Linked DNA regions of Homo sapiens: regions 2, 3 and 4 are each linked to region 1. Evidence: fine-mapped expression QTL. A gene starts in region 1. Each other region holds a variant in brackets. All regions are shown on one strand. Distances are from middle to middle.

Region 1 (8,146 bases):
GGAGACTCCGTCTCAGAAAAAAGAAAATCTATTCATATTTCAATTTAAAAGCCCATGAAGCTTCCTTCCACTGGCCCTACCCAAGTACTCTTCTCAGCACTATGTCGACCTGCACGACAATTTACCCTGAACTTGTATTTATTTTATCCCTTATAATTAAGCATACACTCCTTAAAGGCAGAAGTAGAAAATGCATCACCTTATCACCCCTTACACAGTGTCTCAGTGATTTCTCGTTATTCTAATGAATAACCAGTGCCAGGGAGAAATCATTCCATTTGGGGATCACTGCTCTGTGAGAATGCCTCTGAACATTCAAAACTCATGAAGAAAGGCAAAAGCTGAACCCGGAGTCAGAGAACCTATCCTTTATTTCACAAATATTCATATAGTATTTAGTACATAACAGACACAGCTCAAGGCATCTTATGAATATCCACTCATTTTGTGCAGATGAAGAAAAGGAAGCATAAAAAGATAAAATAACCTAAATAATGGAGCCAGGATTTGAACCCAGGGAATCTAACTCCAGATTCCACACATTTAACATCTACACTATGCTGCCTCAAAGTATGAGAGAATACAAAATTAAGCTTGATCATCTCCTAAACAAGAACTCAGAAAAAAAAAAATACCTATCATAAAGGTTAAAAGATTACTTTCTAACTTTTCATAAAAAGTTGATTAAAAAGGCCCACGTTACAATTGTCATAGATGTCTAATCCCACTCTCACCCTCAAAAATATGCCAAGAGGTACCTATTAATTCACAAAACAGTGTTATATGACACCTGGGGCTTCTACACTGCAGCTCCTATTACCATTTCCTGCTTCCTTTAGGAACACATTATTACTGTGCTTTCTGCCAGCCTCTCAAATAATATGGTCTTCCTGTCTCATTTTTCCAAATCCTTAAATAGCTTCTTTCTGGTTGTGAGGCTTGGTCCTAATATAAATGTCACATCTGGCCTCTTGAACACTTTCATCGGCTTCACCTTGAAGCCAGATTCATGTTAAAGGTCAAGAAAGGATGCCCGGTTATGTACCAATCCACCCTCACCAGCAAGTAATGCTTGCTGCAAAACAGATCCATGTGCAACACAAGGCAGATGTCAGCTGCAAGCTGAATGTGAGGGTAATCGGGGTAATCACTAGCCCACTGGGTAGAACTCTGAAACTCTGTAAAAGGACATACTGACACAATTTCAAATAATATGACACTGCTTTGAATGGAGGGTAGCAAATGGAAGAAGCAGACCATTCTGAGTTGCTCCTTGCCGGCAATGTCAGGAGGCTACCAGGGCAAAGGCAGAGGTAGGAACAATGCTTTTCCTCCTTGAGTAAGGTGCAGCTGGCCATGCTTTTTTCACTATAGATAGTGCCAAAGTTGCAGAGACACCTACAGAGGAAAGCAAAATCATTTCTAAACATTAAAGCCCATGTAAAGACCAGGCATGGTGGCTCACGCCTGTAATCCCAGCACTTTGGGAGGCTGAAGTGGGCGGATCACTTGAGGTCAGGAGTTGGAGACCAGCCTGGCCAACATGATGAAACCCCGTCTCTAGTAAAAATACAAAAATTAGCCGGGCATGGTGGCATGCACCTGTAGTTCCAGCTACTCAGGAGGCTGAGGCAAGAGAATTGCTTGAACCCGGGGGAAGGAGGTTGCAGTGAGCTGAAATCATGCCACTGCACTCCAGCTTGGGTGACAGAGTGAAACTTTGCCTAGGGAAAAAAAAAAAAAAAAGGCACCCCATGTGATATAAAATTGTATACCAAAAAGGATTTTTAAACTTGAGACATTAAGTTTATCAAGACTTTATCGACAGTTTAGCAACTATTGCCTGTGGGCCAAACCAAGCCAGCAGTCTGTTTCTGTACAGCCCTTAAGGAAAGAATGGTTTTTACATTTTTAAGAGATGTAAAAATAAATAAGAACAAAAACTATTTGCGGGCAGAAAGGCCTAAAATATTAATTACCTGGCCCTTTACCGAAAAAATTTGCAGACCCCTACATGAAAACATGCAGTCTAAGAGTTAAGATTCAGTTCATCTATAGAGGTTCGGATTAAAAAAAAAAAAATCAATAGCATTCAATAGCATTCTGTAGTCAAATGGGTGAGCCATGCTAAAAGTCTGGGCCTGGTTACTGATGTCTGTTTACACTCCGTTGCCTCTTACTGTCTACTCACTTCAGTTAGAAACTGGAAAAATATTTGGTAGGGGATAAAAAGTGAAACCGGCTTTGTTATTTTTCAGGACAACATATATTCATATATATTATCTATTTTGTCTCTCCCAAATCATGTAGCAAGCAAACACCACATTCTTTTAGATTAAGACACACATTATTTATCATTTATTCTATCACAACCACCAAACTCAATACTTTACATACATGTAAAATTTCATTTTGTTTCTTCCATAAAAGCTCCCTAAGAGATGGAATTTATTGTCTGCTTTGTTCACTAACAAATCCCCAATACCCAGAATAGGGTCTGGCACTTTATGGGTGCTCAATAAATTTATGATTATTAATGAATCCTCACAAGAAAATAAGCTAATCATTAGTATTACTCATATCCGGAAAATGAGAGATGAATAACTTGGCCTACTCAATAGTGTCAAAGCTAGAACCTGAACTCAGGCATTCTGACCACAGTCTAAGTGAAGCCCGATGCTTCCACATAGGTATGTGCCAAGGGAATGTCTAACTTTCGTTGGACTATCAAGGTGTGAACTATAATGCTTCTGTTATTGCAACTAGCAGTGCCAGTTTTAAATTTCCTATTCTCAGATGACCCATGTGCTACAGGAAAACAAACACACAACTCAAATGTCTTCATGTACTCACTTATCTGAGTGTCACTTTTCTAAGAAGTGCAATGTCATTTTGTCACAGATATTAAAAGTTTTCGTCAAAGAAAATATAAGTGCAAAACTCTGACAGTTAAGTCCTTTTCATTTTTAAAGAAAAAGTTTGGCCGGGCACCGTGGCTCACGCCTGTAATCCCAGCACTTTGGGAGGCAGAGGCGGGCGGATCACGAGGTCAGGAGACGGAGACCATCCTGGCTAACACGGTGAAACCCCATCTGTACTAAAAATACAAAAAATTAGCCGGGCATGATGGCGGGCGCCTGCAGTCCCAGCTACTTGGGAGGCTGAAGCAGGAGAATGGCGTGAACCCGGGAGGCGGAGCTTGCAGTGAGACAAGATCGTGCCACTGCACTCCAGCCTGGGCGACAGAGCGAGACTCCGTCTCAAAAAAGGAAAGAAAAGAAAAAGTTGTGTTACTTATACTTTATGCAACTAGGTAACTTAAGTTCTGCAAGTTAGAAATCAAAGGGGAAAAAAGTCCAAAAAGGATATAAACTTTTGACAGCTACAAATAACAAAAAAACTGCCAGTGATCTTCATACAGAAATACTTAGCTGTACACACAGCAAGTGCTCAATAAAAATGCTTTTCAGAAGAAATGAAAATGAGACAAACCTTTCTTGGGTTTTACAAACCTTCTTGGTTTGTATACTAGAAAGAGCTACACGAAAAAAAGCAAGAAGTAACACTCATGAAAATGTCTTTGGACGGAATGAAAACCCTGAGAGGACTCCCATAATGTGACAGCATGAAGGAAAACAATAAACAGCATCACTAAGAGCGGGGACACCAGACATACAGTCTTTTGAGCAAACTAAGAAAATGAGAAATTCCGTGCCATCTTCAATCTACAACTATGGTAGATATCCGATGCTCCATCCCATCTCACTCGAAAAAGCTGGCACGGAGAAAATGTCAAAAAGGCCAGTTTAACTTAGAGTGGCAGCTGCTTCTAATTTAGAGGGTCTCCGGGGCGGCCCGCCAGCCCAATTCGCCACAGCTCCCGGAAAGCAGCGGGGTAATCCAGGGCCGGGTAAAAAATGCAGAAGCCTCAGCCCCACCCCAGCCCGATTCAAACTCTGGAGGCGCGACCGGGATGAACATTTTTTTAGCCACACCTCCAGACGGTTCTTCAGCCCGCTGAAGTTCAAAAACTACCGTTTCAGTTGGATTCAGGGCAAGGGGAGGCCGGTAAGTCGCCCAAAAATAAAGTGAATGAGAAGCAGAAGTTGTTAATACTATATCCCCCGGCAGGTGCTAACCGCACGCCGACCCGACTGCAGCGCGGGAACGGAAGGAGGAAACGGAAGATTTGAAAAGATTCTGCCGCCCCCAGAAACTGTGCGACCCGTGCCCTCGCAGCCACCCCCAAGAAGCTCCGTCTTTACCAACGCGAGCAGCGCAGCAGCTTCTCCAGGCGGTCGAGCGCGGCGCGACTGTGGGCCCAGGCACCGCGACCATCCGGTTCCATGGCGGGCGCGGAACGAGGCTCGTTCCCGGAGCGGATCCTCGGCTGCCGGTTCCTCGGCTGCCGATTATCCGGCATCGTCCCGCCTTCGGATGAAAGGCTCCTCGCAGAGCGGGAAGCAAGGAAGCCTCGGGAAACCACAGGGAAGCTGCAGGCCAGCGACTCGAAACCGGCCAAGCTCTTCCCGCGTCTGGGACGGCGGGCCGCCAGAGGGGCGGGGCGCGCGGGGAGGGGCGGGGCACGGCGGCCGCAATGCTCCCAAAATAGGGACTCGCAGGGCACAGGGGCGGGGCCGCGAGAGCCAGCCGCTGGCCGAGTGGGCGGGACCTAGGGGTGGGGCTGGAGGCTGAAACTTGCCAAAGTCCCGGCGTGTGGGACTTAGGGGAGGGGCCGCGAGAGCCGTGGGACCGAGGGGGCGGGGCCGGACGGCTGAAACTTGCCAAAGTCCCGGCGCGCGGGTCCTAGGGGCGGAGCCGCGAGAACACGCCGGGGACAGAGGGGGCGGGGCCTAGGAGCCTCGGGGCGGGACAGGACGGTCGAAACCGAAGTCCTGGCGCGCGGGGCCCAGGGGCGGGGCCTAGGGGCCTCGGGGCAGGACAGGACGGCTGAAACCGAGGTCCCGGCGCGCGGGGCCCAGGCGCCGTGCAGTGAGAGCACGCCGCTTGACCGAAGGGGCGGGGCCTGAAGGCTGAGCGCAGTCGCGAGGCTGTAGTTGGCAGGAGAGCGGGCGGGGCCTGAAGCCCCTCTGGGCTGCCTGGACGGATGAAGTCCAGGTGGAAAGCCAGTCGACGTTTCCCGGGAGCTACGACTCCAGGGACCCTCATCCGAGCTTAACCGTTGGAACAATCACAAACCCAGAAACTTTTAGCTGAGTGTTATTTATAAAAAGCGCTGTTTTGACTGCTGTTGGACTTGGAAAAGCTTTGCCCACGATACTGAAGGTACCACTCTTTGTTCCTAAGAAAGCAACCTTTTCTTTCCTCTCACCTCAGCTGTGGCGTATATTGTAACTGAGTAAAAATAAGGAAAGTTTCTAATTCTAACTAGTTAACAAATATCAGCTCAAAGGCATGTCTGAAAAGATCTGGTTTACTTTTAAAATATTGGTATAAAATTTCAAAAAGGGTTTTTTTTGTTAGAGAGTGTGTCCACCTTCCTCCTCCAGATCTTTCACTGATCGCCGTAATTTACAGATAAGACCTACAGAGCAACCCGTCATGCCTTCCTGCCGCGCCCCAAGTTCATTTCCAAGTCCTTGCATTTTTTCCCCCTAACTTGTCTCGAATGCACCCATTTTCTCTCCGTCTCTGCTCCACAACATCCCCAGTTGCCTCGTCCTCGCCTGGTTTCCTGTCGTAGCTTTCTAGCTGATATCCAAGTGTCTATCCAGGTCCCAGCCAGTCCCGAGACTGCGGTGTGGCCGCCTAAAACATTTCCAAACACAAAACTCATCGTGGCACTTCCCTTTCTTAAAACTCCTTAAAGTTTTTCTCTGCTCTTTGACTAGCCTCTTGTCAAAACCTCCTCTGGCCATCATGGTCCCAACCCCACAGTGCGTTCCCTTAGGTCATTAAAAGCCCCTGCACCTTGCTGCCTCATGGCTTTTGCGCAAAGATTCACTTTGGAACCTGGAATTGGCCTCCTCTCCATTCCTCATCCTTCAGAATACAGCTGAAGTATCACTCCTTAAAGGTTTTCCTAGTTCCTAGACTGGATTCTCTCAGGTGCATCATATCACCTGTGTATGTAGATACACACACATACGATTATGTGCGTGTCCCCTTCTAGTTCAAAACCTCCAAAAGGCCAGAGATTGGCTGCATGTGACTCATTTCCCAATATCGCTTCATGTGGCACATGCAGTGCTTGGCTCCAGGTAGGTGCTCAGTGTTTGTTGAATCATTGAACTACCTACCCAAGCCAGACCCAGCTTTAAGTGCTTTCCTATGTTAATACCTGCCTTAAGCCTTATAGGGACCCTATGAAATGGGCATTAGTATCTGTAGTGTCACCCCCAAATTCATATATTAAAAGTTGTAACCCCAACGTGATAGTATTTGGAGGGGACCTTTGGGTGGTAGTTAGATTTAGATGGGGTTATGAGGGCAGAGCCCCCATGATGGGGTTAATGACCTTGTAAGAAGAGAGAGTTCTCTCTCTCTCCACCACATGAGGACACAGCAAGAACGCAAAAGAAGAGGGCCCTCCCCAAAACCCAGTCATACTGGCACGCTAATCTCAGACTTCTAGACTCCAGAAATATGACAAATTTCTGTTGCTTAAGCCATCTAGATTATAGTATTTTGTTATAACAGCTAAGACAGTGCTCTTTAATAAGAGGAGGCAGGTGTGGCTCAGAGATCTTAATTTACTTGCCCAAGGGGCTCAGCACATGCCTGTAGTCCTAGCTACTTGGGAGGCTGAGGCAGGAGAATCACTTCAGCCCCGGGGTTCAAGGCCAGCCTAGGCAACATAGCAAGACCCCCATCTTTAGAGAAAAGTAAGATTTGTAAAAAGAAAAGCATACTTGTCCAGGATGGAGGCACAGATAACAACAGTGGCAGAATATTAACCCAGATCTTTTTGATTATTAATGGCCCCAGTAAATTATATTTTTGGTCTTTTGAGGGGTTTTTTGGGACAAGGTCTCACTCTGTTGCCCAGGATGGAGTACAGTGGTACGATCTCAGCTCACTGCAGCTTTGAACTCCTGGGCTCAAGTGACCCTCCCACCTCAGCCTCCCGAGTAGCTGGGACCTGTGCAGGTGCACCCCACCATGCCTGGATAATTTTTTTTTTAATTATTTGTAGAGACAGGGTCTCTCTATGTTGGCCAGGCTGCTCTAGAACTCCTGACCTCAAGCAATTCTTCTGCCTCAGCCTCCCAAAATGCTGGGATTACAGGTGTGAGCCACTGTGCCTTGTAGCTCCACTAAATAATGAAAACTCAAGGAGTTTAAATGACTTGGCCAAAATCACACACTTGGTTAGTTAGAATAAGCACAACTAAATAAGGCTTTATTAAATGTTTTAACTGAAACTATGATAGCACACAAACGAACCAATTTTTTTTTTTAACTCAGAGGCACCTAAGAAGTTAGTCCTTATTAGTCCTGTTAAGCCAGTGCTTACTCTTTGTTGAGCGTGGGAGAAATCAAGTTCTAGAAAACTTAAAATGGGTCAGGCACGGTGGCTCACACTTGTAATCCCAGCACTTTGGGAGGCCAAGGCAGGTGGATCACTTGAGGTCAGGAGTTCAAGGCCAGCCTGGCTAACATGGTGAAACCCCGTCTCTACTAAAAATATAAAAATTAGCCAGGTGTGGTGGCATGCACCTGTAATCCCAGTTCCTCAGGAGGCTGAGGCAGAAAAATAGCTGGAAGCCAGGAGGTGAAGGTTGCAGTGAGGCAAGATGGTGTCGCTGCCCTCCAGCCTGGGCAACGGAGCGAGACTGTCTCAAAAAAAAAAAAAAAAAAAAAAACACAAAAGGAAAAGAAAGAAAAAGAAAAAGAACGAAAACTTAAAACGTTAAAACCTGGAGAGATACTATGGTGTTAATGGGGTAAATTGAGGATTTCAGGAGATAGATTGTCCTACTTATAATCCCACTTTCACTAAATAATTGTGTGATTTAAACCAAGCCTTAAGCTCTCTGAGCATTAGTTTCCTTGTCTGCAAAATGGGGATAATATTTATCGGGTAGATTTGGAGGACTATTAAATAAGATTAAATGTAAAATCACATACACCATAAGTACTCAGTAAATGGTAACTGATTGAGGATGATTATATATAATCAGTA
Region 2 (8,146 bases), 47 kb after region 1:
TACTTATCACTTGGCCAAGTTACTTATTCTCTGCAAAGCCCATTTCCTCATCTGCAAAAAAGAAAGGATGATACCACTCTATTTACTCATCTACATTATTTTATTGTGAAAAACTCAGAATATAATAATTTTATGAGAATATTTTAAAGCTATAAGGCACCCTATAAACAAATGATGAAACAGGGATTGATGGCTGTATTTCTGAAGCATTATATTTCTCATGGGGTATATTAGCCTTGCCTCTTTAGAGAAACAGAACTAATAGGAGATATATATATATATATATATATATATATATATATATATATATATGTATTTATTGTGAAAAATTGGCTCATGTGTTTATGGAATCTGAGATGTCCTATAACCTGCCATCTGCAAGCTGGAGGCCCAGGAAAGCTGGTGGTGTAGTTCCAGTCTAAGCCTTGGAGTCTGAGAACCAGGGACCCAATGGTGTTAGTCTCAGTTTAAATTTGAAAGGCTGGAAAAGAAGGAATGCTGATGTCTAAGGGCAGGAGGAAACAGATAACTCCAGCTCAAGCACAGAGTGAATTCTTTCTTCCTCCACTAATTTGTTCTAGTTGGTCTGTCAAGGGATTGGATGATGCCTGCTGGCATTGGTAAGGGCAATTTTCTTTACTCAGTTGACTGATTCAAATGCTCATCTCTTCCAGAAACACCCTTACAGACACACCCAGAAAAATGTTTTAACAGCTATCTGGACACCCCTTAGAGAAGTCAAGTTGACACATAAAGTTAACCATCACATGGGGTAACTCAATTACCTGGCAGACAACTTGTTCTGAGTTCCTCCCACAAACAAAAAAAAAACAGAACAACTGCCATGAAGGCATTAATTGGAAATGTAAGATTTAACATTGATTTTATAACAGAGCTGGAGGAGTTTTACTTTATATGTCACTTAGCCAACAATTCAATAATACTGTCTTAGAAGTTTGTCTTTTCCCCAAAGCCTGTTAGATTGGGCTCTTCTTTATGGAAATTTGCCTCTCTCAGCTCCTAAGCTCTTCCCCTCCCTTCATATTATTCAAATTAGCTTTTTACCAATAAAACTTGGAGGCCAACAGGAAGCTTCTTTGGACTTTACTACTGACATCTCTCTAACAAATCTGTGTGTTTTCTTGTGATGGGATTCTCCTAACAGCTACTGAAAAACATGTTCTCTAGTTACTATATGTTCCCTTGAGAAAATATTGGCTATCCTGACAAATCAATTATACTAACTCTCTCCCTTTAGGTCGAATGAATGGAAGAAAAACACAAGGCTTATGTGTGGTTCTCAAGTCTTATTCAACTCAGGGCTCAGCCACTCCTCCTAAGATGGGCAAATATGTAGATACAGGAAATATTTTCACCTCTTTTTGTTGGGCATCTTCCCCACCATGATCCTTCCCAGTCTGGAGAATATGGAATGCATAATAAGTTTTTATTGGTTCATCACAGGTATCCCCTGGGACACAAAGTTGTCTGGGAGAGTAGGTGCAAAGCCTAGGCTGGATCTTCAATTACCCCACACCCAGGACTCTTGTCTCCATGATCCCCTCCTTAATCCTCATTTCTGTTGTCTCTGAGGGTCATGGTCTTCTTATACCAGCTCCTACCTCAATTTCTGGAAGACTAGGGTAGAGTTTGCCTCACAGATATGCTCTACTTTGAGATGCCTATCCTTCCCACAGTAGAAACAAATCCTGATGTTAACTTTCCGCAGAGTCCCCAGTACTCCTTCATTTCTCTTTTTTTTTTTTTCGAGATGGAATCTCACTCTGTTGCCCAGGCTGGAGTGCAGTGGTGCAATCTAGCTCACTGCAAGCTCCGCCTCCCGGGTTCACACCATTCTCCTGCCTTAGCCTCCCAAGTAGCTGGGACTATAGGTGCCCACCACTACGCCCAGCTAATTTTTTGTATTTTTTAGTAGAGACGGGGTTTCACCGTGTTAGCCAGGATGGTCTCGATCTCCTGACGTCGTGATCTGCCCGTCTTCGCCTCCCAAAGTGCTGGGATTATTTTTCTTGGAAAACCAGGTATTTGTGTCTCCCTAAAATTCATAATTTGATATCCTAACCTCTTATTTGATGATATTAGGACATGGAGCCTTTGGGAGGTAATTAGTCATGAATGGGACTAGTGCTTTTAAGAGAAGAGATATGAGAGCTTATTCTCTGCTCTCCAACATGTGAGGACACAGCAGGAAGATGGCCATTTGCAAACCAGGAAGCAAACCCTCACTAGGACCGGATCTGTCAGCACCTCGACCTTGGACTTTTCAGCCTTCAAAACTGTGGGGAATAAATGTTCATTGTTTAAGCTACCCAGTCTATGATAATTTGTTATGGCAACACAAGTGAAGATACCAGGAAACTGGTTCTTAGTGTTTACCTATCCTGTCAGTGAATAGCCAGGACTACACTACTTGAACATTAGTGAGTAAAGCAAACCAGGTCTGAAGCTTTTTCTGTGCATCCTTCTGGGGCTTGCTTTTCCTCTCTTTCAGAAATCTTGTGGGGAATTGGACTGGAGCTAGGAGAATGAATCATAACATGCAACCCTTGTTCCCCAAGTCTGGACTAGTAATTCTCTATGCAAACTACTTTTTTGGTTTTATAATGGAAAAGCAGCCAGAACTCTCCCTTTCTCTTTGTCCTTCTAAATTACCTTCATTAATAGTGAAATTTTGGCAGACTTCTTTCCCACATTGCTTCTGCTGCTTAGGGAATCTGAGCTTCCTCAGAAAAATTTCACTATACTTCTGCAACTACTGTCTTAGTCCATTTTGTGCTGCTATGAAAGAATACCTGAGACTTGGTCATTTATAATAAACAGAAATTGGTTTTGGGTTCTGAAGGCTGGGAAGGCTAAAATCAAGGGGCTAGTATCTGGTGAGGGCCTTCTTGCTATGTCATCCCATGGTGGAAGGGCCAAGAGAAGGTGAGAGAGAGCAAGAGATCAAACTTACAGCTTCAAGCCGTTTAATAATCAGCATTAATCCATTCATACAGGTGGAGCTTTCAAGACCTAAACACCTGCCATTAGGTCCCACCTCCCAGAACTGTTGCGTTAGGGATTGAGTTTCCACTTCAAGCTTTTTGGGGAACACATTAAAACCATAGCAACTCTCCACAGCTATTGGGATTATCTTTCTGACTTTGTCTCATAGCATCTGGGTTTGAATCCATATTGACAGTCTCTCTAGTTCTGGTACATGGGCTGAGGTCTTGTTTCCTTCTTCTAATTGCATAGTCAGAATTGGCATACCAGTCCTGGGAAATTCCTGTATTCCTGGATATCTGTATCCCCAGATACCTGTTTGAAGTAGTAGGAGGCATTTCAGGCCTTGAGATCTTTAACAATTCTGAATGCCAGGCCTTGAAATTCTTATTTTAATCAAAAAACCATTCCTTCAGTCCCTGTCCTAGGTGCCTTGAATATGCTTGTATTTTCAGTAACATATAGCTTTGGCTTAATAGATAATTGCTGTATAGTCCTATTTCAGCTGCTGAAGAACAGAAAATATTAGATTACCAATCTCATTATAGTTTCCATGATCATTATAGTTTCCAAATTGTGGAATTTGGAAGGGTGTTCTAAGAACTGACAGTCTCCTTGAACTCTTCATTGTGAGGAGTTTAGAGTTTATCTGGAGAGGGTACACTTCTGACTCATTTCCATGAAAGCATCAGGTCTCATGGAATAGTCACAGAAGAAAAGAACTCAGAAACAGAAACATTCTGTTCCAGCTTTAGCTTTATAACTAATTAAATGGTGTAACTAAAAACAAGCCACTTAACATTTTGTGTCTCATTTTCCTCATATATCAAAAGAAAAATAATAACAACTAGATTTGTTGTGAGACAGAATTCAATAAGGGGAAAGTGCTTTGAAAAATATGAAACTGTACCAGAGTAAGGTAATTTTATTATTTTATAGCCTAAGTTGCTTTGGTCTTCCAATTTTAGTTGAAATTGTACAATTGAAGATGAAACATCAATTTCATAGAGGGAATATAGCAGAATGAATAGTAGTAGAAAGATCAATTTAATCTAGACTTCATATTTTTATTATGTGAAATCACTTAAAAAGTAACAGCATCTTTACTCATAATTTTAGTGTAAGAAAGAAAATGTATTGCAGCAATTGCAAAGAACAGGGCCATTAATTTTATTAAATTTTTGACATCATTTAAATGTGCTCCAAAAAGGGTTATGTTTGTTTCATGCTACAGAAATGATAAACTCAAATGATAACATCACATAAGCAAAATCTAAAAGGGGGAACCTCTCTTAAAAAATATTAGTACTGTTAAAAGATCTTTATAAATTTGCCTGTGATCTGTTACAAGGTACAAGAACATCAAGTAATAGTTTTTATATTTATAATTCATTATGATTAGATAATTTTTAATTCAGTTTTTAATTTTTTCTAAGTACACATTTCAACTGAATTTTTAACCTCTCCCCCTTCCTGGTTGTTGCCACAAGTTTGGAAGCCTGCAGTCAAGGTGGTGATTCAGCAACTCTTCTGCTTGCTTAAAATGATTTGAATTCCATTCACAATCACCAGGGTGAACAATCACAGTATAAAGAAATCCCCAAACAATCTTGTTTTCAGGCAGCCTTCCCATCTTAATGCCTTGTATCACTGGGATCAGAACACCTCCTCAGAGCAGCGTGGGCACG[T/G]TGTGCTATGCCAGAGTTTTTCTGTCAGGCAGGATATGCAAACAGTGTGTTTTTCCAAGTGAAATATACCGTTGTTTCCAAGTTTGGTGGAAGAATGAAGTGAATAAGAAAATTTAATATGTTTATAGTTCTTTTATGTCTTAAAAAATGAAGAAATTAGGCTTTATTAGTAACAAAACACCTTTTGACACTGGTGTCCTCACGTAATAACCAGTGCAGCATTTCATATATTTCGGACCTGAAAACACACATACAACAAAGGGAGAGTGCTCATATATTTTTATATTAATAGATAGGGCCATGCTGCCGGCATATTTGGAGTTCACTTGTTCAGAGCACTAGGAAACTTACTTGATGAATGGTGAGAGTACATAGAAACCTACACTTCTAATTTCTCCCCTTTTCCCTTTCCTGTCATCCAGGTTCTCAAAATTCTGAGCAATTCAGCTTTGTATATGACATTCAGCAAAACAAAAGGCCTGTAGTTAACTTACTCTACCCTCTTGAGGAGATATTTCAGGGACCATCTCATTCTTTTTTCTTTTTTTTTGAGAAGCAGTCTCGCTCTGTCGCCCAGGCTGGAGTGTGCAGTGGCGCAATCTGGGCTCACTGCAAGCTCCGTCTCCCAGGTTCATGCCATTCTCCTGCCTCAGCCTCCCGAGTAGCTGGGACTATAGGCGCCAGCCACCACACCCGACTAATATGCCATTTTCATAAAGGGTAATATATGCCTTACTTTTAGACAGATAAGAGGAGAGCACAGAACCCTTCCTGTATTTTGTTTATGCTTAATTACCTCTAACTCCAAATAATCCTTAGGCCAAAGAGGCATATTTTGGAGTGGCATATCTTGATCCTTTTCACTATCAATATCTACAGTGGATCAGCACATTTAACTTCCAGGTAGACACTCTGGTCAAATGATCCACCAACATTTCCCCAAGCCCTCTCCCTACTCTTCTTCCATATAGGGTGGTGAAAGCTAAATACTCTTTTCCCAGGATCCCTTAAAGCTGGAGCAGCCATATTTTTAATAGTAGATAGTCAGATATGTGCAGGGCAGGAGAGGACCCCTCCTACCAGAAATGTCTGGTGCCCATCAGGTGATGGTCAGGTGGTTGTTACACTGTCTCTCTAAAATAGTATTAATAATTGGTTGCAGCCAGTGCCAGGGAAAGGCAGTCTCCCAATAGATAGAAACACCTGAATCTGGTGATCAGCAGCTTCCTGATAAGATCTCAGGAGCTGAGCAAATGGGCTCAAGCATGTGCACCAAGAGGCAAAATGGCAGAGTTTAACTGGTAGGTGACCTTTCTCTGGGAACACTGAACGGGAAAAATGCCTCAAGTGAGCATGTGCACAACTTCAGTAAACACACTGCGCATTGGGCCCCTCTCAAGTGCTGGCAGACCACTGTGCATGTGGACAGCCCACCCCAAGGGAAGAATCAAGGGAGAAGAGATGCAACCCCCTAAAAGCATGCCAGTGTATAAGACTCTCCTTGAACAAGACAACAATAGTTTGCTGTTAGTTACACCCTACATTCCTTTCTCATCATTTCCCATGGTCAAATTAGCTTTTTAAAATATTGTACAGTAACCATTCAGGCGTCTTTTCTTACCTCTGTGAAATGGAATTATGTATTTATTTTCTCTTACTGGAATTTCCCTTTAGGAATTCTTTCAGAAAGAACTTGTAGATAGTAACTTTTTTGAGCCTTGTATGTCTGAAAAAAAAATGTCTTTATTTTGCTCTCACACTAAATCCAGTGAGTATAGAATTCTAGATTTGAAATAACTTTCAGAACTCTGAAGTCATTGCTCTATTCTCTAGCTTTTATTGTTAGCAATGACAAGTCTGGCTGGAGTGCCATATTCTGCAACTGCAGGAGGGACCGTCTACTTTGGTGTCTTGTTGGATTGGCCTCTCGGCAGCACAGTGTGAATTCTGCATGATGGGGATTGTAAAATTGTGGGGACCATGAGTCTGACACTAACTTGATTTTCATTCCTTCATAGATACATGTTTGTTTTCTTTCTGAAAATCATTGAATGCTTTCTTTTATACTTAGGGCTTTGACATATTTTTAGAATGTGTCCGTATGTGTTTTGTTTGTTTGTTTTTGTTTTTTTGGTAGACAGAGTCTTGCTCTGTTGCCCAGGCTGGAGTGCAGTGGCGAGATATTGGCTCACTGCAACCTCCACCTCCCGGGTTCAAGCAGTTCTCATGCCTCAACCACCCAAGTAGCTGGGATTGCAGGCATGCACCACCATGCCCAGCTAATTTTTGTATTTTTAGTAGAGACGGGGTCTCAGCATGTTGGCCAGGCTGGTCTCGAACACCTGACCTCAAGTCCACCCACCTCGGCCTCCCAAAGTGTTGGGATTACAGGCATGAGCCACTGCACCTGGCCATGTGGGGTTTTTTTTAACATCAGTACTCAGACACATGGTGGACTTTTTACCTGTGGAAAGTTACCTTTTCCTCCACCCTATCTCCTCCGTTTCCTAACCTTTTTTCTCCTTGCTTTTCTCTTTTTCTTCCTTCTCCCCTCTCCTTTTAAATGTAATTTTCTCCCATTTATTTCCTCTTCCTTCTCTTTCTGGAATGCTGTGGGAACATCTGAATGTATTCTCCATTCTTAACGTTTCTATTGTACTTTCTGCTGCTTCATTCTCCTGAACTTCATGAGAATCATATAGATCTCAAATCACAAATTTGAAAATGCAACTTAGCCAAAAAGAAAAATTGCATAATTTCACTACCCAGAGACAACCAATATTAATATATTAATATGTATGTTTTAGAGTATTCTGTTGATATTTGTTAAAACAAAAACAGAGTAATTGAAAACCTATTTATGTGTAATGAACATTTAGTAAGTAGCAAGTGCAGGGATGGTTGAAAGAATGATAGGTCAATTGGCCCCCTCAGTAAGTCAATCTTTATTTGTTTCCATCCTCCTTTGCTAGACTGCCTCTCTAATGAATGTTTTATTTAAGGGATCATATTTTTCATTTCTATGATCTCTACTCATTCTTTGCATAGTCACTTAGTCTGGTTTTCTCTATGAACTGTACCTTTGAATGTGAGTTTTTCGTTGAATCTTGCACCTCTAGTTCATGGTTTTTTTCCTTAAGTGTTTTATAATTCTGTTTTTTCCTCTATGCTAATATTTGAAAATTCTTATTTTCCTTTTTGGTGACTGTAGGTTCCATTTACAGAAGCTTGCCTCTGGTGATTTTAGGGGAGGGCAGTACCTGAAGCCAGGCTAGGCACATGGGGATGGTTTGGCATCAGAGCTTTGAGTGTGCATTTCCCCCAGAGATCCTCAGTTACCAGGACATTGGCTTCCTCCTCCATCTCTGGTACCCACTCTGTGCACCTCCTATTTGAACATTTCTACTTTAGAAAATAACACGAATAGTTGAGTTTAGACTAGGGAGAAGTCA
Region 3 (8,146 bases), 80 kb before region 1:
ACAAACTATGAACTAAGGCAGAAAAGATAAACATCCTTGTTTTAGGCCTCAAGTGGAGGTGGCGGAAGGGTTTATGATATTATGGTAACTGTAGAAGCTTTGCCAGTGCTGTCCAAGGTGCCCCACTTCTGTGTGGAGGCTTAAGCAATCTTGGTATCCACAGTAAATACACTGAGGGGATGAAAGCTAAACATTTTAGTTAAATGAGCAGGAGTGGCTACATAGATGGGCAAACTTTACCAGTGCAGATGGGATGGTGAGAAGTCAGAAATAAGAAACTAGGGCCTGGCTCTGGTTGTTGTTCAGGCTAAAACCAGTAAAGTGAATACAGGAGGACACCCAGCAGTCTTGTGCATGGGATACAAGAGCCAGGATACTCAGGACTGACACAAGCTGTGCTACCAACAGTCACTTTTTCATGAGCTTGCTCACAGGGGTCCTGGAAGGCGAGTTGTGAATGCCTACAGTGTGCTAAGCACTTTCACACATCTTTATACTCAGGTGAAATGAACTGTATTCCCCCCCTTTATCACTGATGATACAGGTTAGATTGTTAACAAACCCATGTCTAACTTCAAAGCCGATTCAGGATCCTCCCTGGGGCTGGAGTATTAGTCATTAACCCTTTAAGCCTAGTCAAAGAACATGCTTTTCCCACTTCTCTCACATCACCATTCTAATAGAAACTTACAGGTATCAGAAAGTGCACCTTGTGCCTTAGAAAGCTACACAAATAATCAACAATCCCTAATTCATAAGAATGTCTGCAGCTTAATTAGCCAGGCATAAGACTATTAGTTGACTAAAAAAAAAAAAATTACAGCTCTTAAACGAAGACAACTTCTCAATATTTATTTATTCATTCAGTTTGATGTGCGTATCTTTGAAAAGGGTTGACTTATAAAGAAATACATGAAGTTTACAATCTGTAGCTCAATCTATCAAAGAAAATGGTGGCTTTTAGTAATTAAATAAGACAAGCATTAGTTCCTACCATTTTAATGTGTTCAGGGTAGGAAACAGAATAGACAATTGTGACTGTAATGAGGCCCATGAACGTTTAGAATATGATTAATGCATTTTCCACACTGACCCATGGAAACAATAACAGCTAATGTGGCCCCACTCTCACCTGTGAATCGTCTTATTCCCACAGGAAACATCAAACCTCCCCAAATATCATCCTCTAGGCAGAGGTCACTTAACTATTAAATTTACAAGGCAGGTGCAAAAAAAAAAAAAGGTGGGGGGACCGATGAAATAAAGGAAAAATTCTATTTACTAAAATTCAAGTAGCTAAACTATCTTTTAGGTGAAGTCAGTGAAAACCTTCACACATTGCTCATTTACCCTTATTTCAATCATAATGCTAATATACTTCCCATCTGGTTTCTATTTTTCAGCAAGTCAAAAGAAAAAACAATTGAGATAGATATGGTAAAGTATTAGCAGAGACAGAAAAATAGCTACAAAGTGGCAGCTGTCAAGGAAAAAGGGAAACAGTTATAAATTCAAGTAGAACTAGAAAATAGCCATGAGAATGTGGAAAAGCTACCAGCCTCTCACTTTTAGAGACACAAAGCAATCAGTGTGTAATTGTTTCTTAATGACTATTCCAAACTATCAAAGTTATACTGTATTCGGAATAATCTAAGGTAATAAAGTATCTAGTACACTTTAGAAATATTTTTATTCAAAATTAATTAAAAAGCATTATGTTAAAAAAGATAAGCTTTTGTTAGTTAATAGACTTCCTCACCAAGTCATGTTGAGCCTCATTCAACAGCACAGAATAAGCCAATTTTATACAAGACACAGGTATATGGAAACACAAATAACTTTAATGATTTGTGGTAAAAAAGAAGGAAGCTTGAATCTATGATTGAAAAATAAAAAATAATTACATGTATATCTACACAGAAAGTACAATCACAAGTTTCAAGAGCTTAACACAAACTAACTGCTGTCAAATATTTAACAAAAGCAAAGATGAAACTGCTTAACAGTCAGGGAAAAACAACAAAAAGAAGGGAGGGGTGATAAACCAAGAAAATGAATGACAAAAACTAAGAGACCTCATAGGTGTCTTTACAATCAGGAATTCAGATGCAAGGAACAGACACAAACCTGTCTAAAATGTGACCTATGAGGCAACAGAAAGTGACTTAAAGTCTGTTATAAATAAAAAATGACAACCAAAATCCTAGAGAGTCTTAAATTATTTAATCCAGACATTATCTAACGCCTCGGATTTTTGTTTGGTGCTATGGTGTTCATTTTCTATCAGAATGAAATGTGGGACAAATGCATTACTGGTTGTAGAGAGTGTTTCAGAGCTAATTCACCCAGCAAGGTCAGGGTCAAAAGGTTATTATTTTGTTCATATATTTCTTGATATGAAAAAACAACATGTCAAAGAAAGAATTAAAGCAAAATGTGTTTTCAAATGATAAACAGAATCTCAAACTTTCAAGTAAGTGCATCTTAAGATGTTGATGAACTTCAGAGATTCTCACTATTTTAAAACTAGGGATATTCTATTCTGGTAGTTATCAAACTGTCCTCTTTTGTTCATGAGGAACCAAACTGGCAAGTCTCTCAGTGTCTCCTTCCCCAAGTCTTTAATTTTATAAGTATATTCAATGTCTAGGAAGGAATTATTAAAGAATTCTGCTTCTTAAAAAAATGTTTCAAAATAATCTAATGTATCCTTGTCGATTCATGAATGAGAGCACCCAGAGCAGAGTAACCTCCCCACATCTGGCCACTCTCAGGTGGTATCCTGCCCACTCACTAAGGCCTTGCCTATTTGATATTAGTAAGCCCTCCCCATACCTACTTCTATACTTACTGTATGGCCTTTTGTATGATCTGGAAAAAATCTGTTGTAAATCAAGTAATCACCAACTTCTGCCTCCATGCCAACCTAAAAACTTTAAAAAAAACCTTTTCCTTTTACAAAGGAAGAAATTAAGACCTTCAAAATTATTTTACAAATACCAACAAGGTTTACCAGAAGAAGACTGCTTCTTAATTTAAAGTAATGACGTTGGACTGACAATTTGCTAGACTGGTCAGACCTTTTAAAAAATACTAACATTAAAATGTGTTAGAGAAAATGCTCTAAGTATATATACACATGTAGTAGATAAACAGAGTTACAAATTGATAGTTACAAGCAAATGTACAGAATAAAAATATGTACCATGAGCCTAGTGTTGATTTTTACCACACACACAAAAAAACCAATGTTAATGATTAAATCACAATTTCCTGATGATATACAAGATAAAAAACAGGGATGAAAGTGTAGAAACACACAACAAAGTAAATTATTAAGAAAAGAAATGAACACAATATAGGATAAAGACAATTGCAGATAGGAGAATTTAACACCTATGGTGGCACATTTAGACCAAATACTCTTTTTTCAATAAAGCCAAAATAAATTGTTTGATAATATTCTGTTTACTAAAAAAAAAAAAAAAAAAAAGGCAAGTTTTTTCACTGGTGGCAGGTATGGAGAATATTAAAAGACTCAAACAGTAATGATACCACTTGTCTATTTAACCAAGATTCTGGTGTCCTCATTAATCTTTGATACCCAATAATCTGAATAGAAAGACATGATAAATCAAAAACATGCCAATTTTAAAAAGAAAAACCTTTAAAAGCAATCCCAGCTTCTAAATGGTAAACATAACATGAATTCCTAATCTGGCATTAGA[C/CTT]TTTTTTTTTTTTTTTGATTCAAAGACAAATATGAATGACTCTACCTATTTGTAAAAATGTGAACATTAAAAACAGTACAATGACTGGGCTCTCACAAACCGTGCAAATTCAATTTGAAATGTTCATCTGGTATAATATTCAGCTGTCAAGAGGAAGCAACTCAAAGGACATCACACAGTCTATAAACCAGCTCGAAGGAGCCTTCCAGACTTTGCCCTGCCGAACCCTCTCTGGGTGATAATTACACAAATCTTCATAGATGATATACTGTGTGCAGAAGCGCTGATCAGAATCGGGTCTCGCATGGTATGCGACTGTATTGATGGTCTGAGTCACGTCACTGTCTGGCTTGGGCTTTCTACTGAGGATCTGGCCCCCACCTGCAGTGACGAGCTTAATAAGGTTGTCCTTTGGATGGTGTTTGAAGGTTCCCCACAAATAGAAGTAGCATCCATCAAACAGCTTTGGCAACTGAAATAATGAGAAAACATTTGTTAAAGGCAGATCAAAATACTGTATTCAAAAACACTGTATATGAATGAGGAAAATAAAAATACAAGTTGAATATCCCTTACCTGAAACATTTGGAGGAGAAGCATTTCAGATTCATAAATTTTTTGGGTTTTGGAAAATTTGCATATACATGAGGTATCTTAAGGATGAGGCTCAAGCCTAAACACAAAATTCGTTTGTTTCTTGTACACCTTATGCACATAGCCTGAAGTAATTTTATACAATATCTTCAGTAATTTTGTGCATGAAACAAAATTTTGACTGTGTTCTGACCGTGACCTGTCACATGAGGTCAGGTGTGGAATTTTCCACTTGTGGCATCATGTCAAAGCTCAAAAAGTTTTGGATTTTGGAGCATTTTAGATGTTGGATTAGGAATGCTCCATCTGTAACAATTATGAGCAGCTAAGAAGCTACTTAATGAGGTGCTGGGACAAGTTATATTTCAAGCATACTAACTGGATCAAGAAAAATACTTAGGCAAATAGGGGCTTCCTATTTACAATTTTTTCCCTAAGATTCAGTCACCATCTCGGTTCCTTTTCACTCTTCTAAAATTTTAGATATGCTTGGTATAAAGAAAAAAACAAACTATTCATCAAACTTTTTTCATCAGGATGTTTATGCTTATTTGGTGGGACTTAAAGCCTCCACAACTCCTAGCTTATTTGAAATAGGCTTCAGAGACACCAGGCTAAACATTATTAAATTACAAGAGTAACATCTTTTCCGTGGACTTTTATCCAATTCTGCCCATCCACATTCAGGTCCTTACATATTACCAACCTAAGGTCTCCAGGGCAGCCACCATGGGGGTGTGCCCTCCAGGGTTCCAGAAATGTATTCACGGGGCACAAAAGATTTTTGTGCTGAGGCTAGGGATCCAATTAGCTATGAAACATACTTCCGTATGCTCGTTGGAAATAAAAAAAGTTTCATAATTCCCTTCTATGGAAATTTTCTTTGTGACTTCTAATATACTTATATAATATCAACAGGATAATGCGATATTATCCATTAAAGCTACAATATGTGGCCATAGAGACATATGGTAACTAAATCCAAGCAGCAGCTGTAAGTCTTCTTTCAAGCTACTTCCTGTATCTGAGATTTACCTCAGATTCTGAAAGGTTTATGGCAATGTTCAAGATGCCAAAAATCCATTAACAGTATGAAATTATTACCTTCTGGATTTTACTGCTCATCGTGATCATCTTTCAGAATCAAGTGCTTGAAATAAGCACAATTAAAATTTTAATCAGTCACCTGTAGCTGTTGAAAGGGCAGAAGTTCTTCCTGATGGTGATAATAATAGTATGTCATAATAAGAACAATGAAAGTTGTATTAAAAGAAAAATACCAGCTGTTCTCTGTTGAGCCTGCTTCTGCGTGGACCTTCAGGAATTTCATACTTTTCTTCCTGTTCACATACTTTTCTTCGTAGACATGCTTTTACCCCTGACAAAAACACAAGAATTAAAGCAAACTAAGTATCAAGTGAGCACTATATCTCTCTCATTAAAATCAAGCAATTTACCTAAGTGGTTTTTCTTCTTCATGGCAGTTTTTAAGTATTATTCTAAAATGCAAACAGAAATCTTACTTATGCCAAAACAAAATGTAATACAACTGGTTTTCCCATATAAAGAAAATATTTTAAAAAACTCTTTCTTTGGAGGATTAAGCCATAAGTTAGTACTGAACACTAACTGTAATTTTAATCTCCTTTCTGAAAAACCTAAGCCAGGATACTATTTCAAAGACAAAAATAAAAGTCTACATTTCCACTCATAGCAATTACCCAAAATTAAGGTGAATAAAAAGTCCATGACACAATAACCTAAACTGAGCACTTACCATCTATACTGCTCATTTTGACAGTTATATGTCTAATCGTCTGTTAAACTGTAAGTGATTTGACATGAAGGAATGTGCTTTAGTCTACAGCACCAAGCTCAGCTAGCCACACAACAGGGGTTCAACAGCGCTTCCTAAAATAAACAAGCAGAGCTTGGGATAGGTTTGGCATGTGACAGGTACACAACTGAGGTTGCTAGTCTAGAGATGATTTGATTGGGCTTTGCAGGAAAAAAAAAAGCATTCTTTTGATGGCTTGAGTAAGTCTGTTCACAGCTTCAGGTTAAAAAGCAAAAGCAATAGAGACAGCTCAGCCTGGCACTGTTTAGAGTCATTCCACTGCTTGGCACCTGGGTGGGGAATCCCTAAGTAGGGCCACTGGCTGGCAGCCAGTACCAATTGTCTCGCTAGGCTCTAGAAATGAAAGGAACCCTTGGGATTCCCAGGACCAATCATGAAGGACATGGTCAGCTTCAGCTAGAGACAACATCTTGGATAATGCCTGTTTACCACCAAGCGAGGGAACTGATGGCATGTATATATATTTATCATGCTTCTGTTCTGATGGCATATAACTAAACTAAATTTGAGATTTGCAGTTGAAGGACTTGGCTATCCCAATTACTTGTTCTGGAAGCTTCCTTGCCTATGGAAATAAAAAATGAAAACAATGTTTTTCACCGGGCTTCTGTGGATAAAATGCAAGAAGCATTCTAAAAACTAGATACTACAATGAATTATCTTCATCATAAAAACAAACCCTCCATACAATTTCCTATTTGTCTTTGAGGTTGTTTTGCTCAATACTTCATTTTATCACTGAGGGTAGGAACCATATATTATTCACCTATGCGTTCTTCAGAATTTCATACACTTTCCCATAGAACAGGAGTTTAATAGCAGAGGGTATCGGGAAAGTTGGAACAATAACTCAGGTATCCCCTTCACTGTCTAGTGTTGTTAACATAAAGGAACAAAAGTTTTTAAAAATTCACTATGGACACAGCATTGACAGATTGTATCCACATCAATAAAAATAAGTAATTATATAGCACCTGTAAGAGTTCAGAGTTACACATAGTTTTGAATATCAAACTGTTACATCCTGTTATCACTTGATATCTAATGGCTTAAAATGATCAGAAAAAAATCTATGGCTGCATAAACATATACTTTATATTGAGGATTAGACATATATGTTGGATATACTACAGTGTTTTGGAAACCTCTTGAAAAATGCTAGTGATAAAGTTTTGTCCAGCTGATCCCTACTTACTTCAACAGTAAATTGATTCCAACACAGGAGCAGAACCACTACTCGGCATGTAAACTGCATATGCCTGCAAAAGGGCTCCTTTCTTGACTAAAGGGTGGCTAAGAACCAACAGTTAATCTGCTACCCAGAACTGTCCTGCGATTGCATCTAATATAAATTAAGATTCAGTTGTGTATGAGTAAAATGTCTTTTGACCTATGATGATTTTTTTTTCTTTTTTTTTTTTTTCTGAGACAGAGTCTTGCACTGTCACCCAGGTTGGGGCGCAGTGGCGCAATCTCGGCTCACTGCAAGCTCCGCCTCCTGGGTTCACACCTTTCTCCTGCCTCAGCCTCCCAAGTAGCTGGGACTACAGGCGCCCGCCACCATGTCTGGCTAATTTTTTGTACTTTTAGTAGAGACAGGCTTTCATCGCGTTAGCCAGGATGGTCTCGATCTCCTGACCTCGTGATCTGCACACCTCAGCCTCCCAAAGTGCTGGGATTACAGGCGTGAACCACCACACCTTGCTGACCTATAATGATTATCTTGAGAGCAAAAACTTATACTGGAGAAGAAAAAGAAATGCAATGTTTTCCAAGAGTGAGTAATGGTCCACTTTAGACTAACTCAGACTTTATGGCATAATCGGTTTTAAACTTTCTTCTTTATTACCCCACACTGACACAATAACAAAACTTCAACTGTTTCCAGGAGCCACATCTGCAGAATTTGGAGTAAGCGACAGAACTGAAAAAACTGGTACTTTCTGAGGGAAAAAAAATGTGTTTG
Region 4 (8,000 bases), 36 kb before region 1:
CCAAGGTGGGTGGATCACCTGAGGTCAGGAGTTTGAGACCAGCCTGGTCAACATGGTGAAACCCCGTCTCTACTAAAAATACAAAACTAGTCGGGCATGGTGGTGCCAGCCTGTAATCCCAGCTACTTGGGAGGCTGAGGCAGGAGAATCACTTGAGCCCAGGAGGCAGAGGTTGCAGTGAGCCAAGATCATGTCACTGCACTCCAGCCTGGGCCACAGAGCAAGACTCCGTCTCAAAAAAACAAAACAAAAAAGAAATTGTCTGCGTATAAATTATTCTGAGATATCAAGAAGTACAGTCATGCTTGAATATAGACTACAAAATCTATTAGAAAGCCATATTCAAAATTCATTTCAGGTACCAAATAAAGGACACTGGCCAAAGATCATGTGCTCACAATGAAGTTTTAAAAGCCATAATTTCACTTGTGAAAAAAACAATTTTTGAGCATTTGTAAATGGCTTCTGAGTATTGTTTAAAACAACCAAAACTGTTTAGCCCAGAAGACTACTCAGTGAAACCAAAGTTAAAAAACAGCCAAAAACTGCCATTTTATTGGCAGTTACTCCATCCTAATACATTTAGTTTATATTCACCTTATTTGTTCAACATTTTCTAGGAAGCAACAGTTGCTCTGTTTAAAATGGCAAAAAAAGAGATCAGTACAAACCTATTCAAATCAGCCCACAGAATTAGCATTAAATTTTTTATCCCCCTGCTCCCCGCCCAGTTCAAGACTAAAATCACCACCCATTATCAACTAATTCAACTATACGAAATAGAGCTTCTGTAATGTAGCCTTACAAGTCTTTTCTAACAAGTGGTTTTCAATTTCTCTATTTCTCTATTCCAGTACTCTGGAGAGCTATGCAACAATGTTATAACAGTAGCAACAGTAGCACACTGATGCAATGGAGAAGGCAGATGAGGAATAGTAAGAAATACAATAACTTTACTTTAGAAATCACAACCTCTTTTTAAATCAGATGAGCAAGATCCGGGGAATAAGTGAATTAAAATGAGGCACAAGGCAAGGAAAATACTCTGAAGGCAGACAATATTAATTCGACTTTCATATTAAGACACCGTCAATTATTAAATAGCATTAAAATTGAAGACCCCTTCCAGTTTTGAACTTTCTGTGTCTTGTGTGTCATGATCCAACTAAATCCTACTATAAATGAGTAGACTTTTAAGGTCACTTTAAAGCTGTCTTGAAGTAAGACAAAAAAAATAGCTTCCCTCTGCTGCCAGCCTCCAGCGAAGGTAGACTGTGGCAAAGGAGTTCTGGGGAACTGGTCTCAGGTAGTCTGCCCTCCCACTCTTCTTTTTTATTTTCCTAGAAGTGAGAGATAATAATCCTCCAGCTATCTAATACCAGGGTCTCTTAAATTTGGCCCTTCATGTAATGTGGAAAGATCTGACATCTATCATTTATATTTAATTACATATTACGTTTTAAGTATCCGTTAACTCTTAAAGCCTTTTTAAAAATCTCTAGCTGTAATATAAAGGATACTGTCCCTTTGTAAAACAATGTCAGGCTTTAGGAAGAAGGAGGCATTTATGCAGCGGGATGAAGGTAAAAATTTTCTTGAAATTACATTATTATCACCACTCACTGCAAATATAACTAATCAGTTCTTTTAGGATAACAGGGCAGGGTACAGTACCTAAGTCCATGACGATAAAGCAAAAATATCTAGCAGAGCATACTCTCAAAAAAGACCAAATAAAAAGCTATAGACAGAAGTTACATGCATAACATTGTGTTCAATGAGTTTCGTGAGTGCTTCTTTAGTGAATAAATCTCTCCCCACCCAACCCCTCTCCCAATACTTTTTTCTGAAATTTTTTTCCTCTGTTGGTTTGATAATGTAGAAATCACTAATTCTCCTAAATATAATATTTGATTTTTTTTTCTTTTTAAAAAATTTTGCTGGCCAGACGTGGTGGCTCACACCTGTAATCCCAGCACTTTGGGAGGCTGAGGCAGGCAAATCATGAGGTCAGGAGTTTGAGATCAGCCTAGCCAACATGGTGAAATCCCGTCTCTCCTAAAAACACAAAAATTAGCCAGGCATGGTGGTACACGCCTGTAATCCTAGCTACTCAGGAGGCTGAGACAGGAGAACTGCTTGAACCCAGGAGGCGGAGGTTGCAGTGAGTTGAGATCACACCACTGCACTCCAGCCTGGGCGACAGAGCGAGACTCTACCTCAGAAAAAAAAAAAATGCTTTTTATATCTAATTGTCTCTGTTTCTGTGCTCTGGGCTGTTTCTCAAATCTTCAGTTTTCTAAAAAAGTAAATTCTCATGCAACATACATTTTTATATTCCTAAATTAACAAAATGACCTTAAATGCTCAATGGGTCTAAAAGGATTGTAGGTTTCAAATTAATTACCCCAGTTTCAGGAAAAAAAAAAAAAAAAAAAGCAACATTTTCCCAGATTTCTTAACAGTGCAAATTCTACTTCTAGAGCAAGTTATCATGTATTTAGCAACTGGAGTGCAATGGCATGATCATAGCTCACTGTAACTTCAAGCTCCTGGGCCCAAGCAATTCTCCTGCCTCAGCCTCAGCAGTATGCTACTGCTAGGCATACATCACCATGCCCAGCTAATTTTTTTTATTGTTTTGTAGAGATGGGGGTCTCACTATGTTGCCCAAACTAATGGACTCAAGCAATCTCCTGCCTTAGCTTCCAAAATTATTGGGATTACAGGTGTGAGCCCCTGCAACTTTTGCTTTATATTCATAACGGTTACAAATGAATGCAGGAATATCTGCCAAGATACAAATTTTTTTTTCCAAAACAATCCTGTAACAAGTGAGCAGATAAACTGCCAGAACCACACACATTCCCTATCTTTAACATGAAAGTACTCACACACAAAAACCTTCTCAAAGATTTCCCCATTCTAATTCTACATGGTAATGCAAAAAAAAAATATTAAAGAAGCTTAAAAAATAATATAAACACAATTGTGAAATGGAAGAGTCTCAAGGGAATAGTCAAACAGAAACGGAGTGACAATTTAAAGAATACAAGTAGACTCTCTTTTAAGGTTGTTAGACAGTTGCT[A/G]TTTTTCTTTCATGTCACCTCTTCATATTATCAAAGTGTCTTCTGTTAACATTCTCCCCACCCCTGAACTGTATAGCTGATTAGCAAACGGCTTGCTTTTTATAACCAATCTGCTTTCTCCTCTCTAGTACTTGAAAGTTTTGTCATATTTTCATCTTTCTACTTCATGTAAATGTAATGTCATGCGCATAAATAAAATTATGATAATTAGATAGAGTCTACAGTAACTGGAATAGCTTGAACTGATATGAAGTAGCCAGGAAATAAATTAAGTTTTGATTCTGGCTTCTTTAAATTACTTTCAAGTACTCACTTTTGGGCTCCTCACAACTTGAAAGAATAATTGAACTTTTCTTAAACCACAGCAAACATAATTTATCTAAGGAAAGTATTTGCCAAGGCTTATTAAAAATTTTAAATGAATTTGGTATTTTCAAGTAATACACTGAAGGCTGAAAATAAGAGTGTGTGTGTGTCCCACTGAATCTTTTATTCCTAATCTTTCAATCAAAGGAAAGATCCTTCACACATTTGTACATACTGCAGATCCACACATATTCCAACAATATAAATTAACTTTCCAAAAACACACACATAAAAACAAAACTTTTCCTTATTATAAATGTTAGCTCTTCTAAAATACCATTAATAAACATATTCATAAAAACAATACAGAACGTTACAATTAAGTATAAGACAAATGACTTGCCTAGCATGGTTAAGCCTTTCCATGTAAATGAACCGACCAGGAACCAAAGACTTCCCTTCTTGGCAATTAGATGCCATTAAAACAAACAAACAAAAATGAACCAACTGGAATGAAGCTCTAAAATATGTTAAATATTTCTGTAGCTTCTTAGAATTTACTGAATAAAATACAGGCATATCTCGGAGATACTGTCAGTTCAGTTCCAGGTCACTGCGATAAAGCAAATATTGCAATAAAACAAGTCACACGAATCTTCTGGTTTCCCAGCACATATAAAAGTTATATGTGCACTATACTGTAGTCTACTAAGTGTGCAATAGCATTATGTTTTTTAAAAAAAATGAACAGACCTTAATTGAAAATAACTTTATTGCTAAAAAATGGTGACAATTGTTTTGCTGGTGGATGGTCTTGCCTTGATGCTGCTGGCTGCTGACTGAGCAAGCAGGTAGTTGCTGAAGGTTTGGGTGGTTGTGACAGTTTCTTAAATCAGGACAATGAAGTATGCCACATCCACTGACATTTCATGAAAGATTTATCTGTAGCATGTGACGCTGTTTGGTAGCATTTTATCTGCGTAGAACTTCTCCCAAGATTGGAGCCAATCCTCTCAAACCCTGCTGCTGTTTTATCAACTAAGATGATATAATTTTCTAAATCCTTTGTTGTCATTTCAACAGTGTTCACAACATCTTCACCAGAAGTAGATTCCATCTGCAGAAACCACTTTCTTTCTCATCTATAACAAACAACGCCTCATCCATTGAAGTTTGATCATGAGGCTGCAGCAATTCAGTTACGTCTTCAGGCTCCACTTCTAATTCTAGTTATCTTGCTATTTCTACTACATCTATAGTTACTTTCTCCACTTAAGTTCTGAACCTCTCAAAGTCATCCATGAAAACTGTAATCAACTCTTTTCCAAACTACTGTTAATGTTAACATTTGGACATCCTCCCATGAATCATCAATGATATTAATGGCATCTAGAATGGTGAGTCATTTCCAGAATCATCTGTGGAATACCCATCTACAACAGCTATAGCCTTACAAAATGCTTAAGTAACAAGACTTGAAAGTAAAGTTACTCCTTGATCCATGGGCTACAGAATTGATGTTTTGTTGGGAGACATGAAAACAGCATTAATGTCCTTATCTTCATCAGAACACTTGGGTGACTAGGTGGCACTGTCAATTAGTAATATTTTGAATATCTTTCCTGAACAGTAGGTCTCAACAGCAGGCTTAAAATATTTAGCAAACCATGCTGTCAAGATGTGCTCCCACCCAGGCTTTGTTGTTCTAAATGGTAAATGAGCATTGGCTTCCACTTCAAGTCACCAGCTGCATTAGCCCCTAACAAGAAAGCCTGTCCTTTGAAGCCAGGCATTGACTTCTCCTTTCTAGCTATGAAAGACACAGATGGCATATTCTTCCAACAAAAGGCTGTTTCAACTTCACTGAAATCTGTTGTTTAGTGTGCCACTCTCATAATTATCTTGGCTAGATCTTCTGGATAACCTGCTGCAGTTTCTCCATCAGCACCTGCTGTTTCAACTTGCATTGTTATATTATGGAGACAGCTTTTTTCCTTCAACTTCATGAACCAACCTCTGCTAGCTTCCAACTTTTCTTCTGCAGCTTCCTCACCTCTCTCAGTCTTCACAGAATTGAAGAGATTTAGGATCTTGCTCTGGAGTAGGGTTTTGCTTAAGGAAATGTGGTTGGTTTGATCATCTATCCAGACCATTCCAACTCTCCTCATATCGGCAGTAAGGCGGTTATGCTTTCTTCTCATCTCATTTGTGTATTCAACAGGGTAGCTCTTTTAAATTACTTAAAGAATTTTTTCTTTGCATTCACAAATTGGCTGTTTGGCAAGAGACCTAGCTTTTGGCCTATCTCAACTTTCAACATGCCTTCCTCACTCATCATTTCTAGCTTCTTATATAAAGTAAGAGATGAGTGACTCTTCCTTCCACTTGAAAACTCAGAGGACATTGTAGGGTTGTTAGTTTACCTAAATTCAATATTCTTGTGTCCCAGGAAACAGGGATTCAAAGGGAGAGAGATGGGAGAATTATCAGTAAGCAGAATAGTCAGAAAAGACATTTATCAATTAAGTTTGCCATGTTACATGGCCAGGGTTTGTGGTGCCCCAAAGCAATTACAATAGTTACATCAAAGATCACTGATCACAAATCACCGTAACAGATACAACAATAGTGAAAATATCTGAAATATTGTGAGAATTACCAAAATGTGACACAGAGACACACTGAGCATAGGCTGTTGGAAAAACAGCACTGACAGACTTGCTCAATGCAGGATTGCCAAAAAACACAAAAACAAAACTCTCTGCGAAGCATAAAAAAGTGAAGTGCAATTAAATGAGGTATGCCTGTAATTTAACAGATAATTCTGATAACCTGGTCAATGGCACAATAAGTTACTGGTATTACAAAAGCAGACTTATACATATGTGGTGAGTGACAGAGGAGAAAAATAGATACTGACTCCAGGAGGTGTTTTAGAAATTAAACTCTTGAAAATATCACATATGCCAAGGCTGCTTTTGTTTCCTTTGCTACCTTCTCATGAAGCTACTATGAAGGATATATAATTTCACACACAATATAACATGACTGTCTTCAAGTATAATAAACTACAAAGTTAAACTCTAAATGAGACTCCTCACAAGGGATCTTCTCTCTCTCCAGGGGATCTTCATCACCTTTGTTATGTTCTAAGCATACCATGCCTTGTAAGTTGCATTCAAAACATTATCTATTATGTCTACATCACTAATAAATCATGGCATGCCAGCTTCAAGCCATTCTTCTATTCCACAGTAAGTCATTGCTGTGGCATAAATTATGAGTAGTCATTGCCATTTTAAGAATTTGTGCTAGAGAACTTGGTAGAAGGGTGTGGGGGAAGAAAAGGGGAAGGTCAGGATGGCACAAATTCTCAAGCAAAGCTGACATAATAGAAAATAAAAAATTTTCTCTATATCCTTAGTATTTTGTTTTCTATTGGGTTGGTGCAAAAGTAATTGTGGTAATAAATCAGAAGAATAAACAATGAGTATCTTAGTTTCTACTTACGCACAAAGCTTTCTCATAAACTCTCCCATTCATGACACAGTGTTCTCAATAGCAGTTTAACATAGCTGATGCAGACATTCAAATAGGAACATGAGTTATGAAGATATTCAAATAGGAAGAGGGGTATAAAAAAGACTTACTGATAGGAGAGCAGAGAAATGATAATTTTGATTTCGGTCAGATTACTCTGGCTGTTACATAGAGAACTGACTGCAGGAAATACAAAGGGAAATTAGGAAGCTACTTCAGTGGTGTGGTCAAAAAATTACGACCTCCAAAAATGTCCACACACGAATAATCCCCAGAACCTGTGACTATGTTACCTTACGTGGTGAAAGGGACACTGCAGTGTAATTAAGTGGACACACCTTGAGATGGGGAGATTATTCCGCATTTCTCAAGTAGCCCAATTTAATCGTATGAATTCTTAAAAGCAGAGGGTCTTTCTGGCTATGTCAGAAAGATAAGATGTGAGAAGGACTCAATCTGCTGCTGCTGGATGAGATGAAGAAGAGGACCACGAACTAAAGGAATGTGAGAGTCTCTAGAACCTGGAAACAACCCTCAGCTGAAAACCAGCAAGAAATCTGGATCTCAGTCTTACCACAAGAATTATGAAGTCCCTGCCAACCATCCAAGCAAAAATGAAATGGGTCTTTCCTGGAACCTCCTGAAAACAGCTGACAACATGATTTTAGTGTGATGAGACCCATACTAGACTTCAGGTGTACAGAACTGTAAGAAAATTAATTTGCATTGCTTTGAATCACTAACTTTGTGGAAGTTTGTTTTGGCACCAATAGAAAATTAATGCAAGTGGTAGGGGCAAGAAAAGAGAAGTAGCTGCCAGTAGGGTGGTAGCTATGGAAAGGTTATGGCCAATGATGATGCCCAGAGGTAGTTTGGGGCAAGGTATTATACGATGTTTATTAATAATGTTTCCAAGCTCAGAAATCAATCAGTAAAGCCCTACCTGCAGTGGGGGAAGGTAACTAGTGCAGGAGAACAAACTCCTGCTGGGTTCTCTGCCCTCGGTGCATACACCAAGGATGCTCAGCGCAAACATGTGCTCAAACTATAGAAACTGCAAGTTTA

Which allele goes with the higher level. Positions count from the first base shown, and alleles are read on the strand shown. Sizes are in standard deviations (SD) of each study's normalised expression. Not every link is listed here.
As copies of C replace CTT in region 3, the expression in B cells of the gene that starts at base 4,537 in region 1 goes down (moderate effect, 0.56 SD a copy in CEDAR).
With allele A in place of G in region 4, the expression in left ventricle of the gene that starts at base 4,537 in region 1 is lower (moderate effect, 0.59 SD a copy in GTEx).

Evidence for each region. PIP is the estimated chance that this variant, and not a neighbour inherited with it, causes the effect. A credible set is the group of variants that fine-mapping cannot tell apart.
Region 2: its variant is the best candidate, but not a certain one, in a credible set for the expression of BARD1 in T cells (TOPMed, PIP 0.62).
Region 3: its variant is the best candidate, but not a certain one, in a credible set for the expression of BARD1 in B cells (CEDAR, PIP 0.86).
Region 4: its variant is the best candidate, but not a certain one, in a credible set for the expression of BARD1 in left ventricle (GTEx, PIP 0.53).

Annotation. Positions count from the first base shown.
Region 1 is chr2:214,805,147-214,813,292 of GRCh38, forward strand. BARD1 (BRCA1 associated RING domain 1) reads right to left here and starts at 4,537. Exons shown (of 11, transcript NM_000465.4): 1 at 4,266-4,537. The coding sequence starts at 4,423. It overlaps SNHG31 (small nucleolar RNA host gene 31), which reads left to right and starts at 5,083. Exons shown (of 4, transcript NR_110292.1): 1 at 5,083-5,286. RefSeq lists enhancers at 3,476-3,525, 3,816-3,895 and a silencer at 4,446-5,015.
Region 2 is chr2:214,851,750-214,859,895 of GRCh38, forward strand. The region is part of intron 2 of SNHG31 (small nucleolar RNA host gene 31); the gene reads left to right. Among named protein-coding and RNA genes, the nearest start is that of SNORA70I, 8.9 kb to the left of the region's middle. The variant T/G (reference allele first, on the strand shown) is at 4,695.
Region 3 is chr2:214,724,809-214,732,954 of GRCh38, forward strand. BARD1 (BRCA1 associated RING domain 1) reads right to left here. Exons shown (of 11, transcript NM_000465.4): 10 at 5,603-5,700; 11 at 838-4,200. The coding sequence ends at 3,868. Among named protein-coding and RNA genes, the nearest start is that of BARD1, 81 kb to the right of the region's middle. The variant C/CTT (reference allele first, on the strand shown) is at 3,729.
Region 4 is chr2:214,769,506-214,777,505 of GRCh38, forward strand. The region is part of intron 4 of BARD1 (BRCA1 associated RING domain 1); the gene reads right to left. Among named protein-coding and RNA genes, the nearest start is that of BARD1, 36 kb to the right of the region's middle. The variant A/G (reference allele first, on the strand shown) is at 3,090.